3 linked regions of the Homo sapiens genome follow. The protein of the gene in region 2 interacts with the protein of the main gene of each other region in a biochemical or structural test. Each region holds a gene or a part of one and is shown on either strand. Other genes may lie near its edges.

The links. Proteins that work in one complex are often made in the same cells at the same time.
Region 1: the proteins of MLX (region 2) and MNT form a complex in vitro, tested with the Homo sapiens proteins (one study listed by BioGRID).
Region 3: the proteins of MLX (region 2) and MLXIPL form a complex in vitro, tested with the Homo sapiens proteins (one study listed by BioGRID).

What each region holds. Positions count from the first base shown.
Region 1 is NC_000017.11:2,398,044-2,404,895, forward strand, and holds the start of MNT (max-binding protein MNT), read right to left. Parts: upstream 3,018-6,852; 5' UTR 2,670-3,017; coding exon 2,597-2,669; intron 1,560-2,596; exon of another isoform or gene 1,172-1,559; intron 950-1,171; exon of another isoform or gene 746-949; coding exon of another isoform or gene 649-745; intron 1-648. UniProt on the Homo sapiens protein: Binds DNA as a heterodimer with MAX and represses transcription. Binds to the canonical E box sequence 5'-CACGTG-3' and, with higher affinity, to 5'-CACGCG-3'.
Region 2 is NC_000017.11:42,570,099-42,573,736, forward strand, and holds the end of MLX (max-like protein X), read left to right. Parts: coding exon 1-85; intron 86-1,448; coding exon 1,449-1,505; 3' UTR 1,506-2,869; coding exon of another isoform or gene 2,870-2,926; 3' UTR 2,927-3,008; coding exon of another isoform or gene 3,009-3,068; 3' UTR 3,069-3,105; downstream 3,106-3,638. Other genes in the region: PSMC3IP (homologous-pairing protein 2 homolog), read right to left, coding at 2,870-2,926, 3,009-3,068, 3,213-3,266, 3,380-3,525. UniProt on the Homo sapiens protein: Transcription regulator. Forms a sequence-specific DNA-binding protein complex with MAD1, MAD4, MNT, WBSCR14 and MLXIP which recognizes the core sequence 5'-CACGTG-3'. The TCFL4-MAD1, TCFL4-MAD4, TCFL4-WBSCR14 complexes are transcriptional repressors.
Region 3 is NC_000007.14:73,593,506-73,600,539, forward strand, and holds part of MLXIPL (carbohydrate-responsive element-binding protein), read right to left. Parts: intron 6,191-7,034; coding exon 6,021-6,190; intron 4,209-6,020; coding exon 3,677-4,208; intron 3,428-3,676; coding exon 3,360-3,427; intron 3,285-3,359; coding exon 3,134-3,284; intron 2,975-3,133; coding exon 2,859-2,974; intron 2,768-2,858; coding exon 2,648-2,767; intron 2,465-2,647; coding exon 2,337-2,464; intron 2,256-2,336; coding exon 2,132-2,255; intron 899-2,131; coding exon 769-898; intron 479-768; coding exon 360-478; 3' UTR 1-359. UniProt on the Homo sapiens protein: Binds DNA as a heterodimer with MLX/TCFL4 and activates transcription. Binds to the canonical E box sequence 5'-CACGTG-3'. Plays a role in transcriptional activation of glycolytic target genes. Involved in glucose-responsive gene regulation.

The sequences.
Region 1 (6,852 bases), about 40 Mb from region 2:
CAGGGCTAGGGGTGGAGGAGTCCACACTGGTGGGCCCCAGCAGCCACAGGAATTCTCCCATCTGCACGCTAAACAGGAGGCTTGGTGCCTAAGGCAGGCCCAGGGTAAGCCTTGGAGAGTTGGTCAGGAGCCTCTGGACACTCCAACCAACTCCCTCGAAACAAGGCAGAAGAGTTGCATCTGAGCCACCTCTATGAACACTAGAAATGACCAGGCCAGGCCTTCCGTCTGGGCACCAGGATAGCTCTGCCCTTTCCCCTCTCTCTCACAGGCACACACATCTGCGGGGTCCTCATGTGAGCAAACTGGCTGGTCTAGGTCAGAAACCCATGCTTGCGGTTGAAAGGGAGAAAGGACAAGAGGATCCCTGTCCAGAGCTGGTCCTAGGTCCCGGGAAAGCGTTCTGGTCAGCAGGTTCACCTGCCATGCCCTTCCTTCCATTCGTCCTGCCCCAGCTCAGAGGACAGAACCTCAAGAGGGAGAAGAAAATGAATTCTGGAGGAGAAACTGCTGGGATCGGTTCCGGACACCCGTACATGAGTTTTTGAGTAGATCTAGCTTTCCGCACCCACTCATCTACAAAGACCTCTGACCGGCACACAGAAGTCGTGACCAGGCCGCTGAACTCGGCCTAAACACAGTGCGTACTCGAACTGCAACGTGTTGATGGCGGCAGCAGGTGACTTAATCTCTCCGAACCTTGTGCACGGTCTTCCCCTGACCCCTGTGCCCAAACGTAGGACATTCTTGGTCACCAGGGGCACTCTCCACTGCCAGACCCTGCTCTGGACCATCAAGGCAACAGCCGGGGAGTGTGGGCGATGTCCCCGCCCATCACTTCTGCAAAACCCAGGCATCTGAGCCTCACATATCTCCAGTGACTCTTGACCTTGAGAGGCCGGTCGCCCCGACTAGGCCGCCGGCCCCGCAGCTCCCCCGCCCCTTGCCCGCTGCCGCTCCCCCCTTCCCCCACCCCCGCCCGCCGCGGCGGCGGCACACGGCGGCGCGCGCGCACACAACACACTACTACCTCCTGCATGACTCATCATTGAAGCAACAATAGGCAGAGAGAAAGGAAAGGAGGGCGAAGCACTCTCCAACACAACCAACCCTGCCGGGGGATTCTGGGGGGCGGGGAGGGCACAGGAGTCCCCGGGTCCTGCACACACACCGTTCCAGAGCCGAGGCCCTGGCAGCACCCTGGAAAAGGGAGGTCTTTCCCGCCAGCCCCTCTGCAGCACCCTGAAGCCAGGGACCACCAACAGGGCGCGTGAAGATAGGAGTCATTAGTCTCTTCCCTTTCGAGGGAGCGCCGAAGTTTGCCCTTTCTCATCCTGGCTCATTCCAGCGTGGCCCCGGCTGATGCCAGGGGGCATAGTTGGAACGTTTTGGGGGTCAGTGGAAAAATGTGAGCTCTAAATGTCTCGTCGCCCTGCGATTCTGAGGGTTTCCCTTGCCTCGGGATCAAACACAGGAGGTTAGGGGCCAGAGCCGACAGGTGAGCTCGGCTCCTCCCTCGCAGGGCAAAGGCTCTCCCTGGGAGGTGCCCAGAGGCCGGGGCCCGGGCCCAGGCCCAACCCAGCGCAAGGCCCCTTGCCAGCCCCGCCCAGGCCCCGCCCCCGGCCGAGCGCGAGGCGGTGAGGAGGGGCCGGGCCGCGCCGTCCCCAGCAGGAGTGTCCCCGGTGCACGTGGTCGGGGGCGGAGCCCGTCCACGTCACCACCCGGTGTAACCAACGGGCTCGGAACGCAGGCACACGCAACATTCCAGGCGAGAGCGGGTTTGGAACGCGCAGACACGCCACATTCCACACTGGCTAAAGCGGGGCGCAGCGAGGGGGGCCCGGGGGCTGACCCCCAGCGACCCGCGGGCCATTTCGCAAACGCCCAATTAGCCCGGCTTTCACCCAAACCCCGGACGCGCAGCCCAGCCCAGCTCTGGGAGGCGGGGTCAGGCGGGGCTGGCCAGGATCATAAGACACGCGATGTCATTTCATTCTGCAAAGGCCGCCTCCGCCCCAAGCGGCGCGTAGATCTGCCGGGAGCGCCCCCCGCACCCTCCCCACGGGGCCAGGGAAGCCGAAGAGCTGCTCCGCGTAGAGTAGTCCCCACCCCCACTCCGTTACACACACGCCCACTCGTGTGCTATACACACGCCCGTGTACACGTCCGTTCATCTGCTCTTCCCGAGGCTCACATCACACATCCCCCGTGCACACACGCACGCACACGCGAGCCTGCCACCCCCACGCAACACCATTCCTCACCCCACCCCCCGGCTCACACATCCTCAGTGCCACCGAGGGCTCCGCTGGCCCACGCAAAAGCAGCCCACCACAGAAGGGGCACAGGGGTGCCACGCAGCCGGGGTGGCGCCCGCAGGAGCCAGGTCCCTCGCAGCATGTTAATGAATTCATTAATTAATTTCACTGCCCACATCACCCCTCCCCAGGCGGCGGCTCTCGCGGGGAGCCGTGCGCTGCCAGGCTCCGCAGGCCGCCCGGGAGGGGGCCCTGTCCGCGGTTTCGCGTGGGTTCGGGGACCGGGGTCACTCGCTTCCCCTTCCCCAGTGCCCCAGGGGCCCAGCCCGGCCGCTCACCACGTGCTCTCTGTTGTTGCTGCGCTTGCCATTCCAGGAAGCGGGCCGCCTCCAGTAGCGTCTCTATGCTCATCGCGCCGAGAGCTGCCGGGGGCGCGCCGGGGCCGAGGCTGCGGCCCGCGAGCCGGGCACAGGTCAGGCTGGCGGGCAGGCAGGAGGGAGGGATCACCTCCGGGGGGCGACAGGGCTGGGCGGCGCAGCGCACTCCGCAGGGAAGAACGGGGGAGCACGGGGAGAAAAATCAATGTCTCTCAAAATATTTGCAAAATATAAAATTGCAAATTTAAAAAAATGGGATGCAAAAAAAAAAAAAAGGCGGCACTGCCTCCCTTCTTCCCCTCCCTCTCTACCTCCCTTCCGATGCCTCCCGCCCCGCGGCCCCCGGGAGTCCCGCCGACAAGAAAGGGCTTTGCAACAAGATGGCGAGGAGGCACCGACACACACAACAAGGGAAGGAGCCGCGCTGCCCCCGGCCGCCGCCCCCGCTACTACACCGGGGCCACAGCCAAAGCCCGGACCGGAGCCCCCGCCCGCAGGGCCGCGGCGTCTCGCGAAGGGAGGGGCGGGTCCTGCGCTGCTGGCCCCGCCCCCCGGATCCGGCGCGCGCACACGTGGCCCGGGCAGGGAGGGAGAGGTCCGAGCGGGGTGTGCGCGCCGCGGTTCCGCTTTCCTGCTGGCCCCGCCCCGGCTGCAAGCCACAAGTTGGGCCGGGGCGGTGCGTTTGGGTCGTTCACGACGAAATCTGTCCTGCTGGAGGGAGGGTAGGGTGAACAATTCAAGATTTAACAGAGTTCCAACCAGGATATTCCGGGTCAGGGAAACCTTGGGAATGGCAGAGACTGGCCTGACCCTGGGTCTCCACGCTCCACCCACTCGCGACCTAAATCCCGCAATCGCCGGGCTGTCGCAATTCCCCCGGGATCCGCCCCTGGGCGGAGCTGCCGGCGACTGGAGACTGTCAAGAGAACCAGCGGAGGGAGCGGAGCGGCAGTCCGGCTCCGCGTTTTGTCTCCGTTCCTCCCCCCGCAGTGCGTTCGCATCCTATTAGGGGACGTCACCGGGCCGCGAGCCAATGGGCGGGCAGGACAACACGGCATGGAGCAGCTCCACATGGACACCCCGCGCCGCCAGCCTTCGGTTTAAAGGGCCAGTGTCTGCAGGTCACATTCGCGGGTGCGGATGGGGCCACTGGGCGAACCCAGGGTGGGATGCCGTAAGGGGAATCCCGCAGTCGTGCCCTGGCCTCTCCATTCCTTTTCACCACCTTCCATTTAAAACCAGGCCTTTATCTTTCCTTCCCCTGAACTCCAGTCTTTGTCCACGCGTATTCGATGTGGGTGGAGATACGGACTGTGCCACCCCATGGGCCACCCTTTCCTCTGGGGCCGGGGCCAGGGCGGGGAACACGAAGCGCCCGCAGCCCAGACCGGGGGGCGTGGCCCAAATCGGGAACAACAACGTGGAGGGCGGAAGCCCGGCCCTCCCCGCGCCTGGCGACCGGCGGTGGGCGGGGCGCGGGGGCGGGGTCCGCTGCGGCCGGCTGGAACCGCGCTCCCCAGAGGGAGGGACCCCCCGTCGCCCGCCCGCCCGCCCGCGTCTTCCGGGCTCGAGTGTTTAGGGGAGCTCGGGTGCAATCGGAGAGTTAGCTCTTTGAGGCCGGCTGCCCTTAAATCCTCTCACTTCACACATAAGGAAACTGAGGCCGTGACGGCCAAGGACTCGCCTAAGGTCGTTCCGTATTCCACCTGCTCCTCTCTCCCGAAGCGGGGGCACTCTTCCCTGACCCCAGGGACGACTCTGAAGCCAGTTCTGGAGGAGGGCCCCCAATTAGAAAAATGCCAGGGAGGAATAGCAACCCTGACCACTTAACACACTGTGATTGGGGCAACAAAAATCTTCACCTGAGACCCAACTCCGCTGTTCTGCTTCCTCGGTGGAAGCCACACGAACCCCACTGGTACAGCGGCAGCGATAGACCCCAGGCGGCTGAAAGCTTATTTGGAGCGTCCCGGAGCATGTCGATTGTGCTGTGCCAGTGCAGGGGGAGTACCCCTCAGTTCTGGCCCCAGGCTCCATTCTTTGCTAACCGGTCCAAGAAGTGGGGGGGCAGTCAGTGCCAGTGGGTTTAGAACTCCTCAGCCGCGGCTTCAACATCACACACAACCAGAAAGCAAACCTTCATGAGGCTGAGAGGCAGGCCGCCCTGCCAATACATTCCATCACATGGCACCCTCGGAGCGTTCCTATTTTAGGGACTGGTTGGAAGACAGCTAGAAACATAGAAAGCAGGCAAAATGTTTGCTGGCTTTACTCCTTTCCTTTGAGGGCATCGTCATGCATCCTAGGGGGGAAAAATCTGCACAGATCCTGGAAATCAAGAACTTCGTGAACCAGAGGAAGGGGGCTGTTTGCCAGTACTAGTCTACAGAGGCCTCTGATCTTTTCACATTTAATGCCCCAGCATCTAGAGCTGAGCATGCAGAAGTCGCCACACACACAAATGTCCAGGTAGGTACCACTGATTTTGCTTATGATGAAGCTGGAGCAAAGGCGGATTAGAACGGAACAGCCCAGTTCTTCTCCATGGGATGAGTGCCCCTTTGCTGGGAGGGCCAGATCTGTGCTGGCTCCAACATTGCTTCCTTTAAGGTGTCTGCCACTTGCCACCAGTATGGTTGGGCCTGGCCCATTCTGCACAACTAGAGAAAATGGAAAATTCAAAGGCAATATAATATATAGGCGGCAGTGGAACAGGGACTCTCAACAGTATACAGACAGTCCCTGACTTGTGATGGTTTGACACAGGACTTTCCAAGTTTGCAATGGTTGTAAAAGTGATAATCTAGCATGCGCTCAATTTAGGATGGGATTATGGCTGGTGAAACCCGTCCTAAGTGGAGCTGCATCTATACATGATTGTGACCTGAGTTAATGCTTTTGGGCAAGTTCTTATTTTGTGTGGGGTCAGCACCGTGGTGCACAGTGCTCCATCCAGCTGTCCCTTCCTGCTCTCCTCAGGTGGCCATGCACTCATACAGCCCTGGAGTTTCTGCTGAAGGCTGAGGTTTAATTTTTTACACTCTTCTTTGTCACTGGCCAACTCTATACCAGTAAGTAGGCACCTCTCTGAAAGGCAGTGTTCTTAAGACACTGTTCGCTTCAGGGGTGAGGAAGCAGAAGGTAAGAGTAGAGTGAACACAGATTTGAATGCCAGCCTCTCCATTGCCCCCAATACTCCATCTGCTCCAGAGCTTAGTGGAGATGTTTGCTATTTAAAACAAACAGCCTTACTGGCTTCACATGATCATCTGTTTATTTGGGTCATGTGGGGACAGCAGCCAGGGGATGTTAGACAAAAACAAGGGTTTAGAAGGGAGGCTGCAGGCCAGGAGCGGTGGCTCACGCCTGTAATCCCAGCACTTTGGGAGGCCGAGGTGCATGGATCACTTGAGGTCCGGAGTTCGAGACAATCCTGGCCAACGTGGTGTGGTGAAACCCTGTCTCTACTAAAAAAAAAAAAAAAAAAAGGAAGAAAAAAGAAAATTAGCTGGGCGTGGTGGCAGGCGCCTGTAATCCCAGCTACTGGGGGTGGTTAAGGCAGGAGAGTCACTTGAACCCGGGAGGTGGAGGTTGCAGTGAGCTGAGATGACACCACTGCACTCCAGCCTGGGCCACAGAGAGAGACTCCGTCTCCAAAAAAAAAAAAAAAAAAAAAAAAAAAGGGTGGGGGAGGCTGTTTCTGGACCTATTGTTGCCTACAGGAGCCTGAAAATGGCCAAAAACAATACCTCATCAACCAAGCTTTCCCCAGTTGAGGAATGGACAGTGGGGGTGGGAGATACCTATAAATGGCGATGTGAGGGCATGAAAGAAGAGGGGAATGAATAGGAGGGCTGTTTAATATTTTAGCCCCAGCTTCCTGTTCCAAGGGGGTGGAGCCAGGATAGAAGCTGGCAAATGTACTCACTCAAGAGAAAGAGAAATAAGTCCTTTTGGTTTCAGCAGAAAGGTTAGCAGGTTTGGGGAATTATCCAAAGGCCAGCAATCTCTAAAAAGGTGTTCCTTAAGTTTCTTTTTCTTTTTTTCTTTTTTGAGATAGAGTCTCCCTCTGTTGCCCAGGCTGGAGTGCAGTGGTGTGATCTTGGCTCACTGCAACTTCTGCCTCCCAGGTTCAAGTGATTCTCCTGCCTCAGCCTCCGGAGTAGCTGGGATTACAAGCACGCACCACCACGCCCGGCTAATTTTTGTATTTTTAG
Region 2 (3,638 bases):
CTTCAATGCCTCCATCTCAGTGGCCAGCTTCCAGGAGCTGTCAGCGTGTGTCTTCAGCTGGATCGAGGAGCACTGTAAGCCTCAGGTATGGGGCAACAATAGGCACAGGGTCTGCGGTTTTCTCTACCATCAAGCAAAGTGGCCCAAGCCATCAGCTGTTGAGAAAAGCGTGGCAGCTGCTTTTAGATCTTAAGGGCGTTTCTACAGCTTTGAGGGCCCTGGTATTTTCCCTTTTCTTTGCTGTCTAACCCACATCTTCATGTTACGGTTTCATTCGGCAAGTGTGACGTGAGCTCAATGTGAAGTCCAGCTCTTGGCTTTTGTCTAGCCCATGTTATCGCTGCCCCTGTATGGAAGCCCCAGGCATCTGCAGCAGAATTGGAAACGCAAATTCTGGGACCCTACCTTTAGGCCCCCTAAAGTAGTTGCCCCAAGAGCTTTTTAAAAATTTATTTATAATGGAGATGTGCTAATGGTATTGCACTAAGTCTTCTAATTGAAGTCTGGTTGCTTTTTCTGAGGTTTTAAACTTGTGTCTGAGATTTCTTGTTTGTTTCTCAACATTTTTTTTTTTGAGACGGGAGTCTCGTTCTGTCGCCCAGGCTGGAGTGCAGTGGCACAATCTCGGCTCACTGCAACCTCCGCCTCCCGGGTTCACGCCATTCTCCTGCCTCAGCCTCCCGAGTAGCTGGGACTACAGGCGTGTGCCACCATACCTGGCCAATTTTTTGTATTTTTTAGTAAGACGGGGTTTCACCGTGTTAGCCAGGATGGTCTCGATCTCCTGACCTTGTGATCCACCCGCCTCGGCCTCCCAAAGTGCTGGGATTACAGGCATGAGCCACTGTGCCTGGCCTCGTTTCCCAACATTTTTATTGTGAAACACATTAAACATATTGCGATGTTGAGAGGAGTTCACAGTGAACACTCGTATACCCGCTCCCTAAATTTTACCGAAACATTTTACTATATTTCCATCTCTCCATCTTGCTTCAGGAGCACCTCAAATTAAACTGCAGACATCAGTACTTCCTGGGGGCTTTTTTTTTTTTTTTTTGAGACGGAGTCTCACTCTGTCACCAAGGCTGGAGTGCAGTGGTGTGATGTCAGCTCACTGCAACTTCCACCTCCTGGGTTCAGGCGATTCTCATACCTCAGCCTCCTGTGTAGCTGGGATTACAGGCATGTGCCACCACACCTAATTTTTGTATTTTTAGTAGAGACGGGGTTTCACTATGTTGGCCAGGCTGGTCTTGAAATTCAGGTGATCCACCCGCCTTGGCCTCCCGAAGTGCTGGGATTATAGGCGTGAGCCACCACACCTGGCCCCCGGGGGGCTATTTTTAAAGCACTTTTCTAAAGTACATGGCTGATCTAGGCAGGCATCTTGGAAACTACTCTGCGTTGACTTGGGCATTGTCTATTTCTTCCTCTGCTGCCCTCGCCAGACCCTGCGGGAGATTGTGATTGGCGTCCTGCACCAATTGAAAAACCAGCTTTACTGACCGGTTCTTGGAAACCTGGAGAACAGCCAACAAGAGGCCCTTGAATCTCTACGTGGCCACTGAACTGCTGGGCCCGGGAGACTGGACTACAACACCTCACACTGGTCAGCTGGTTTCTACTTGGTGTTTGGTTTTTCCCAGCCCCATTTTATCTTCAGCGGAGCCGCGGTGTTTGTTTTGTGAAAGCTTCTGATTAATTTATTATATTGACGATAAAACTCAAACCTACCCAGCCTTCCCCCCACTCCATGGAAGTCCTTGGGATGGGCGTCTGCTCTGGACACCCCAAAGAGCTCCTGCCCTCTCAGCCCTTTATTCAAGCCTCAGATTTCTGCTCATGATCTACATAGATTTGGAAACTGTTTTCCTCTGTTTTGGTCTCTTGGGCAACATTTTTGGCCCAAGTTTGGGCAACATTTGGCCCAAGTTTGGGCATTTTGGCAGTAGCTGTATGGGAGAAAAAGAGTAAGAGGAAATATTCCCACAGCCATGAAGGGTGAAAGGGCACCTTGTGCCTAGACTAGGGCTGCCTGGTCAGTCCCAGGTGAGGCCAAGGGCTTTCTGGCCATCTCAGGGAGGGGCCACCAGGTTCCTCCCCTCACCCCATATTCCATCACCTTCCTCCTCTGCTCTGGGTGGTAAGGGAAGCCCTCCCGGTTCCCACAGGCTATGATGCTGCATGGCAGAGGCAGGTATAACACAGCACTACATATTGGAAATTTTTTATTTTTCTAAATACCAATGCAGTTTTGCTACGGTTACAATTTTGAAATATTAACTGAGCCTCAAAATCACCCTTTCTGTCAAGCATATCTTGGCCTCTCCCATGTCTCAGTGTTGCCTGCATTTCTCCCAGGACTTGGGGGTGGGGTGAAAAGCGTACAAAAGATACTTAAAAGGGCTCCTGGGGTACACAAGCCCAGCAGGTCCTGAGTGAAGCCGTGGGCCCTCCAAATGCTCGTTTTATAGCAACCTCTCTCTACCCTAGTTCTCCAAATTCACTTCTGCCTTCCTCAGGTTTGATATCTGGCAGGTTTGACTATCCAGAGGAAATTAAATATTTTTATATAAAATTAAATTATAATAAATATTGCCAAATGCTTTCCTTTAGCATTGTTCCAAGTCTAAATGTTAACCTCAAGCTACTGCAATTTAGACAATGAAATGGGCTGGGTCTACCCCCAGCCACCAGCCCTCATCCTCTCTACCCAGTGCTCTGGTTTATGCTTGTCTCCTGACTGCTCTGCTTAAAGGTGAAAGTAGCAGGAACAACAACAAAAGCCAACCAAAAACAAGGTAGCCAGTGCAAGACATCTCACTCTTCTGACATCCTGCAGTCCCCACCAGTCCTGACCGTGGGCCCCTCAGGGGTCTGGGAGTGTGACGTTGTAATCTTCATCCGTCTCTATCCCAACTTCCTCCTGTGAGACAGGGAGACAAGTGAATGAGATGTCACCAGGATAAGACCACAGGGAAGCAAAGAAGGAAGAGAGCTCCACTTACAAAGAACTGCTTCTTGCTCTTGGGGTATCCTTCAAGTATTGCATCAGACAGCTCTGTAGCCTGACAAGAAATAAAACCACCCGTTTTCAGATGGGCAGCACTGGGCACTGCCTGTCAGTTTATGATATTGTGTAGCGGCTGATCTGGTGCCTGCCATTTTCAAAGGCACCTCCAGGGCCTGTCTCGGAGCTCCCACACACTTACCATCCTCTTCCTCTTCCTCCACTCCTTACAGTACTTCTGCCTCTCTCTGTACACCTAGAAGGAAAAAGCAAGTTCCTCTAACTCCTCAGAACCACAGCAGCCCTCTGGGGCTCAGCCCTGATGTTCACTCTGGACCTGCACAGCGGTCCTACAGCCTTCCAGCTCACCTGCTCTTTCTCTTCTGGAGTCACATGATTGGTAGCTGCTTTAATGTTCTTCAATCTCTCTCTGTAGCCAGCGCATTCCTTCTTTAACTCCTGGATTTCTTTCTGCATCTCTGGTGTGGTCAGGGCACTAGATAATTCCTTGAGCTCTGAAACCACATCCGCCTGGGGTCACTTGCTACCCCTGAGGAAGGAGTTCTGTCTTTCCCAGTGGGTGCTCCCTGAGGTGTTCCACCTTGCTCTGGATCTATCATCTCACATG
Region 3 (7,034 bases), on a different chromosome or scaffold from region 2:
GCCCCCGGAGTTGCCAGCCTAGGCCCCCAATGTCACAGCTGCCAAGGCCTGGGGGTCATCTGCTGATTGAACCTTCCCCATCCCCATTTTGCAGATTGAAACACAGCGGTCCAAAGACAGCGGACGAGTCACCCAAGGTCACGGTGCTGGAGCACAGTGGCAGAGCAGGGACGGGGACTCTGCTCTTCTTGACCTCCAGGAGGTGGCAAGTGTGAAACCTGGACCCTGCTCCACCCCCCAGGGAAGGGCAGAGCCAGGGCCTGGGGCAGGAAGGGAGTGCCCAGAGATGATCCCTGGAGCCCGTGCCCAGGGAAAGCAGCCCCCAGGGCAGCTGAGTGAGCAGCAGGGTCTGGCCAGGACTATAAAGGTTTGCCAAGGGTGCCCTCTGTGACTGCCCGTGTGGCTTGCTCAGGGATGCGGCCCGGGTCGGTCAGGATACTGGTAGATGTGCCCAGCTGGCGTAGGGAGTTCAGGACAGCTGGGTGGGAGACAGAGAGAGAGAGACAGACACTTCCTGGGGTCAGGGCCCTACCCTTGGATGTGGAACCAAAGGGATAGGGGGAGGTATTAGTTGGCAAGACTGTCACCCCCTCCTAGAACCTCTGTCTACAGGCGTCTGGTGGCCAGAGGACCATCTGGGGGATGCGGGGTGGCCACAACCCTAGGCTGTGTTGATGGCAAGCTGGATGTGGGATCTAAGCAGGGTGGAATGCTCCCTCCACCCCCGAGGCTGGGTCCCTCTAGCAGGCAGGGAGATGGCTCACGTACTTGGCCGGAGAGCGGGCAGAGAGCAGTACTGGTCCAGCCAGGCCAGTGAGGTCTGGCGGAGGGTGTGCACACTTGCCGTGGACACCATCCCGTTGAAGGACTCAAACAGAGGCCGGATGAGGATGCTGAACTGGGCCCAGGTCAAGGAGCTGCCTGTGGTCCAGCTGGTCCCCCCACACCACGTGGAGCCCTGATGCCCAGTTCAAACCAGGGGAAGAAAGGGCCTGGACACTGTCTAACGTTGAACCCCAATGACTCATGTTGCAGCCCCTACTTCTTCTTTTTTTTTTTTTGAGACGGAGTCTCGCTCTGTCACCCAGGCTGAAGTGCAGTGGCACGATCTCAGCTCACTGCAACTTCTGCCTCCCAGGTTCAAGCAATTCTCCTGCCTCAGCCTCCTGAGTAGCTGGGATTACAGGTGTGCGCCACCACACCTGGCTAATTTTTGTATTTTTAGTAGAGACGGGGTTTCGCTATGTTGGTCAGGCTGGTCTCGAACTCCTGACCTCGTGATCCACCCACCTCAGCCTCCTAAAGTGCTGGAATTACAGGCGTGAGCCACTGTGCTCGGACTTTTTTTTTTTTTTTTTTTGACAGAGTCTCACTCTGCTGCCCAGGCTGGAATGCAGTGGCACAATCTTGGCTCACTGCAACCTCCACCTCCCAGGTTCAAGCTGTTCTCCTGCCTCAGCCTCCCGAGTAGTTGGGATTACAGGCACATGCCACCACGCTTGGCTAATTTTTGTATTTTTAGTAGAGATGGGGTTTTGCCATGTTGGCCAGTCTGGTCTTGAACTCCTGGCCTCAAGTGATCCACCTGCCTCGGCCTCCCAAAGTGCTGGGATGACAGGCGTGAGCCACCGCACCTGGCTTGCAGTCCCTACTTCTGTCCTGCCAAGACCTTCCCAGCTCTCTGCCTCTCAGTCCCCTCCTCCTTGCCCCTCCACGGCCCTTACTGTGTGCTGAACCATCCCCCATCCCTGAGCTCCCTGCCTGGGCTCAGTCAAGAACTTGACCCCTGAGCCAGATCAGGGAGTGGATTCCAAGTCTTCTGTAGTCCTCACTCCAGAGTTCAGATTCTCCCAAACTGCCCTCGGGGCTTCCTGAGGTCAGGGCCAAGGCTCCCCTTACCCAAGGACTCCTCCCTCAGTTTCCCTCTCTGCTCCCAGCCCCCCATCCCTGGGCAATTTTGCTGGCCAAGATGGCCAGGGCATGGAAGCAGGGGGCAGAGCCAGAGCCTGTCACCTGGGAGCAGCTCTGAGCCTGCCCGGCCTGGAGAGCTAGGCCTCCATCCCAGGCCCAGCCTGGTCTCACCCTGCCACAGCCCCTGCAGCCCCCCAGCCATGGGCTTGAGGGAGGATACCACCCAGAACTTCCAGTTGTGCAGCGTACGGGTTCGGACGTAGTCATCAAACATGTCTCGCATCTGGTCAAAACGCTGGTGTGTGATGGGTACCCCTGTGGCGGGCAGCTGCTGCTGGCACAGGCTGGGGGCAGGGCAGGGGTCAGGGGCTGGGGGTAAGGCGGCATGGCCCCCTGGTCCCAGCACCCGCCTGGACCCTGCCTACTTAATGGCGGCATTGAGCTCCTCAATCTCATCCCGCAGCTGCTGGGCCTCCTCCTGCAAGCCCGCACGCTCCTGCTGTAGCATAAGGATGTACTCAGCTGTCTTCTGCAGCGTGGTAGCTTTGCTCACCTGCAGACGCCACCAGGGGGGCTCAGGCAGGTGCTAGAGGCTGTACCCTGGGACCCACTGAGGCACTGGGATGGGAGGAGGCAAGAGTGTCTGGAGCACTCCCCTGCAATTGAGTTTTGGGTGGGGGGGGTCCAGAAAGGGGCCCTGTGGTTTTGGGGGTGCCAGCCTGGGCCCGGGGCTCACCTTGAGGCTGGGCTGGGCACTGAGTGTGCTCACGAGCCCATGAAGGGTGTCAAACCCCAGCTTGATGTTGAAGCGCCGCTTCTGCTCCGCGGAGATGTGTGTGATACGCCGGTTCTCGGTCTCGGGGAGCAGAGAGTTGGGTGAGCCTAGGAAGGAGCCCAGGAGGGCCTGGGGGTAGCAAACCGATCTTGGGGTGGGGGATGGTGCCCACCTTGTTGCTGTCTGGACGGCCCCGGCTGAGGATGGGTTGCGGGGGAGAGACACGGACGCTCAGAGTCCCAGGGCCTGGCATGGAGCTGAGGTCCCCTGACAGCCGCCGTTCACTGCCTGTGGTAGGGACAGACAGACCCACAGAAAGACCGACCCAGGGGAAAGGGTCCCCATTGCCCCCTTCCTCTCATCTGGCCCCAGACCCAGTCCCCTTCTTCTTCCTCCTCTTCCCCTCATCCCCTAGATTCCCCCAATCCCTGCAACCCCTCTCTTTACCGCTGGGCGCTGGGGGTGAGAGCCGCTCCGCTTTGGGGACAAGCAGGGGCCTGGAAGGGGCCAATGTGGCCGGGCCTGGAGGTGGCCGGGGCGGTGTAGGGGCCGGGGTCGGGGGAAGGAATGTGCAGGGGAATTCAGGGACTGTCTCCTGCTGGGGTGGAGAAGGGCGGAGAGTCGGGTTGAAGGCCGTGGGCACAGCCCCACCGCCCAGTGCCCGAGATCTTACCGGGGACCCTGGGGACCGGAGGAGGGTGCTGGATACAAGTGGTGGCTCCAGGGCTTGCTCCGGCTTAGCTGTGCACGGGCAGAACCGTGAGGCTACTGGGGCTGGCCCACCCCCGGCATCTATCAAGACCCCATCCTGCCCCTCCCAAGAGTCCACACCCCTTTTAGGTACAGGCCCCACATCCCTCATTCCTTGCCACTCTGTCCCTTGAACTGGACCTGCCCCTTCACCTTCATCTTCTGCTCCCAAAACCCCCTGTCCTCCCCACCCCCTGGCCTCCCTCCCCAGGCTTTCCTCTCCCCGTTGCTGGCCCTCACCTGCTGTGAGCAGCTGTGTGAGGCAGGGGTTGTTGCTCCCCGCAGTGGTGGGGGGACTGGCAGTGGCAGGGGCTAAGGTAGGGGGGCTGGCTTTCTGTCCCCTAGGGGATGGGGCGGGGGGCTTGCCTCTGGGCATGGAGAAGCAAGGCCCAAAGGCAGGCTCCGAATACCCCAAGGGTAGAAGCTCTATGGGGAAGGGGGTGGGGGCTGGGCTGGGGACAGACTGTGGGGTGGGTGGGAAGGCTGCAGGAGCAGGCAGCGGAGACACTCCTGGGGCAGGAGGGACGGTGGGGAAGGGAAACCTGGGAGAGAAGAGAGGCTCTTCCTGCAGCAAAGCAGTGGGTGGTGCCATGGGAGGGAAGGGAGGTGGGGGGCAGGGCTCCAGGCCTGGCACCTTGGCAGGGGGAGGGTAATGCAGCAGAGGTGGGGGTACAGGAGGGGGTGGGAGCCGGGGCTTGGGGTCTTCAGGAAGGAGGAAATCAGAACTCAGGAAGGCGCTGGAGTCCAAGGGGCCAGGGCAGCTGTTCCGAGCCTGGTTGGGGGGACAGACAGACACTCAGAGAGCAGGGGAGAGAGCTGCCCCTGGCAGCCATCTGGGCCTCCCCTGCCCTGCCTTGCCCTGGCCAAACTCTAGACTGGGGCCCTGGGGAGAGATAGGAGAAATGAGCCCTGCCTTCCAACACACACAGGTGTGCGAACATATACATGCAGCAGGGAAATTACAATGAGAGGAGGGAGTCGAGTACATTTATGCAAAAAGCAGGAACAGCGGAGCATCAATCTTCCTGCCCGTCCATTTGTCTCCCAAATAACTTATTCATCCATCCATCCACTAACTTGTCCACCAATCCATCCACCAACCAACTCACCCATCCATTCATCATCCATCCATCCACTAACTTGTCCACTGATCCATCCACCAACCAACCTACCATTCCTTCATCATCCATCCACTAACTTCACCAATCCATCCACTAACCAACCCACCCATCCATTCATCAATTGTCCATCTACTACTTCATCCACCAATCTCTCCATCCATCCGTCTTCCATCCATTCACCTACCTATTTATCAATCTATGAACCAGCTCATCTACCACTCTCTCCACCAGCCTACCAGATATTAACATATTAACTAATCCATCCAACCATCTATACTTCCATCATTCATCCACCAACCCATCCATAATCCTTCCATCCATCCACCATCTATACATTTCCAGCCACTTAACCACCAATGAACCCATTCACTAATCCATTAAACTATTCATCTATGTATCCATCCACCAGCCCACCCATCCACCCAACCACTCACCTACCCATATATCCACCAACCCACGTGTGCCTCCACCGCAGTCTAAGATGCATCTATCCATTCACCAGCACGCCCATTCATCTGCACACTTGCTCATTCATTCAGTCACTGACTCACTCATTGGACAACCATTCACTGAGTGCTGTTATGTGCCTGAGCTGTATTAGGTATAGAGAATGCAGTGGTGAGCAAAACATAACCCTTTCAGTAAGGAGCTCACTGTCTGATGGAGGAGAGACACCCCTCAGCAACCGATTAGAATTAGCACCTGAAAAGTCTGATGATGGAGGGAAAAGGCCTATAACCAAGCAGCAGGAAGCAACTTCTGAACTGCACCTGGGGGCCAGGTGTGGTGGCTCACACCTGTAATCCCACCACCTTGGGAGGCCGAGGCGGGCGGACTACTGAGGTCAGGAGTTTGAGACCAGCCTGGGCAACATGGTGAAACCCTGTCTCTACTAAAAATACAAAAATAAGCCGGAAATCGCTTGAACACGGGAGGCGGAGGTTACAGTGAGCCGAGATCATGCCACTGCACTCGAGCCTAGGCGACAGAGTGAGACTCTGTCTCAAAGAAAAAAAAAAAAAAGAATTGCATATGGGGAATTGATGAACCAAAATGGTAGATTCACTGTTTCCTAAACATCCACGCTCAGCTTTCTGCCTCGAAGCTTTTGTTCCTGCTGTTCTCCCATCTGGCTTGAGGTCAGCCAGTCCCTTCTGTCCAAAGCTGACCTATTCTCTAAGGCCCAGAAACTCCCCTTCTCCAGGAAGCCTTCCACAAGCAACTGGCCCTTGGTGGAGCCCATTCCATGGTCTCCATGCCCTTAGCTTTCTCCCACAACCGTTTTGTCCAGTTCTGCTTCACGGGGTCCCTCCCAGAGGGCAGAGATGGGGTCTTTCTTTCCCTCCAATCTCCAAGCAGAAGACTGGGCACTCAGGGAGTGTCTGATACCTCCTGGACATGAACAGGGCAGGAACAGCTCTCAAGTGAGCTACACAGGGCTGGACGGGGTGGGGTGAGCTCACCTGCAGACGGCTGTGTCCAGAGAGGTGGGTCATGGCCGAGGAAGCCGGGGGCACCTCTGGGCCCAGGGTCCCACTGCTGAAGAGGGAGTCAACCACGGGGCTGAAGCTGGGGGGCTCTGGGAAGTTTGAAGGCATGGGCGGCTGTGGGAGGCGGGAGTTGGTAAAGAAATCTGTAATTCAGACACACAGGGCAACAGCAGTTAGGGCCAGGGCTATGGCTGGGAAACAGCTGAGAGGAGAGTGGCCTGTCCCCAGCCTTGGCGGGTGGGGACATGGGGACTGGCGGGCAGAGGGTGGGGGTCCCTTCCACAGAAGATTGTGAAACTGGGAGGGTTTCTGTCTCGATTAGGGGAAGCAGCAACCGTCTTGGGTGGAATGAGCTTGCGTGGGAGAGAGCAGGGGACTGTGGATGTGAACAGGGACCCCAGGAAGGAGCCCCCTCCCCTCCCCAGCCCCAGGCTTAGCTCAGGAAGTCCCCCTCCCCACCCCCTGGTGGCTCCCCTTCCCTGATCTGCTGGAGGTGCAGAAAGGGGGTGCCCAGAGCGAGTGCCAGGGTGGAAAAGGGGTACGGTGCTAGGGGAGGAGGCCTGGCATGGGAGGGGCCCCAGGGTGGCAGAAGTTCAAGAGGGTGAGTTGGAGATGAGGGGGAACGTGAGGTCACTGGGTCCGGGACAAGCTTGGTTTGTTGGAAGGTCAACAGGTGGAGCCTAGGAGTGGGGTGAAGAGTGTAATGGGGCGAGAGGGGCCTAAGGCTGGGCTCCGAGTGGGGTGGGGGCGAGAGGGGCCTAAGGGTGGGCTCTGAGTGGTGTGTGGGCAAGAGGGAGATATGGGTGGGCTCTGAGTGGGATGGGGGTGAGGGGGGTGCCTAAGGCTGGGCTCCAAGTGGGGTGTGGGCAAGAGGGGCTAAGGGTGGGCTCTGAGTGGGGTGGGGGCGAGAGGGGCCTAAGGGTGGGTTCTGAGTGGGGTGTGGGCAAGAGGGGGATACGGGTGGGCTCCAAGTGGGGGGGGGGTGAA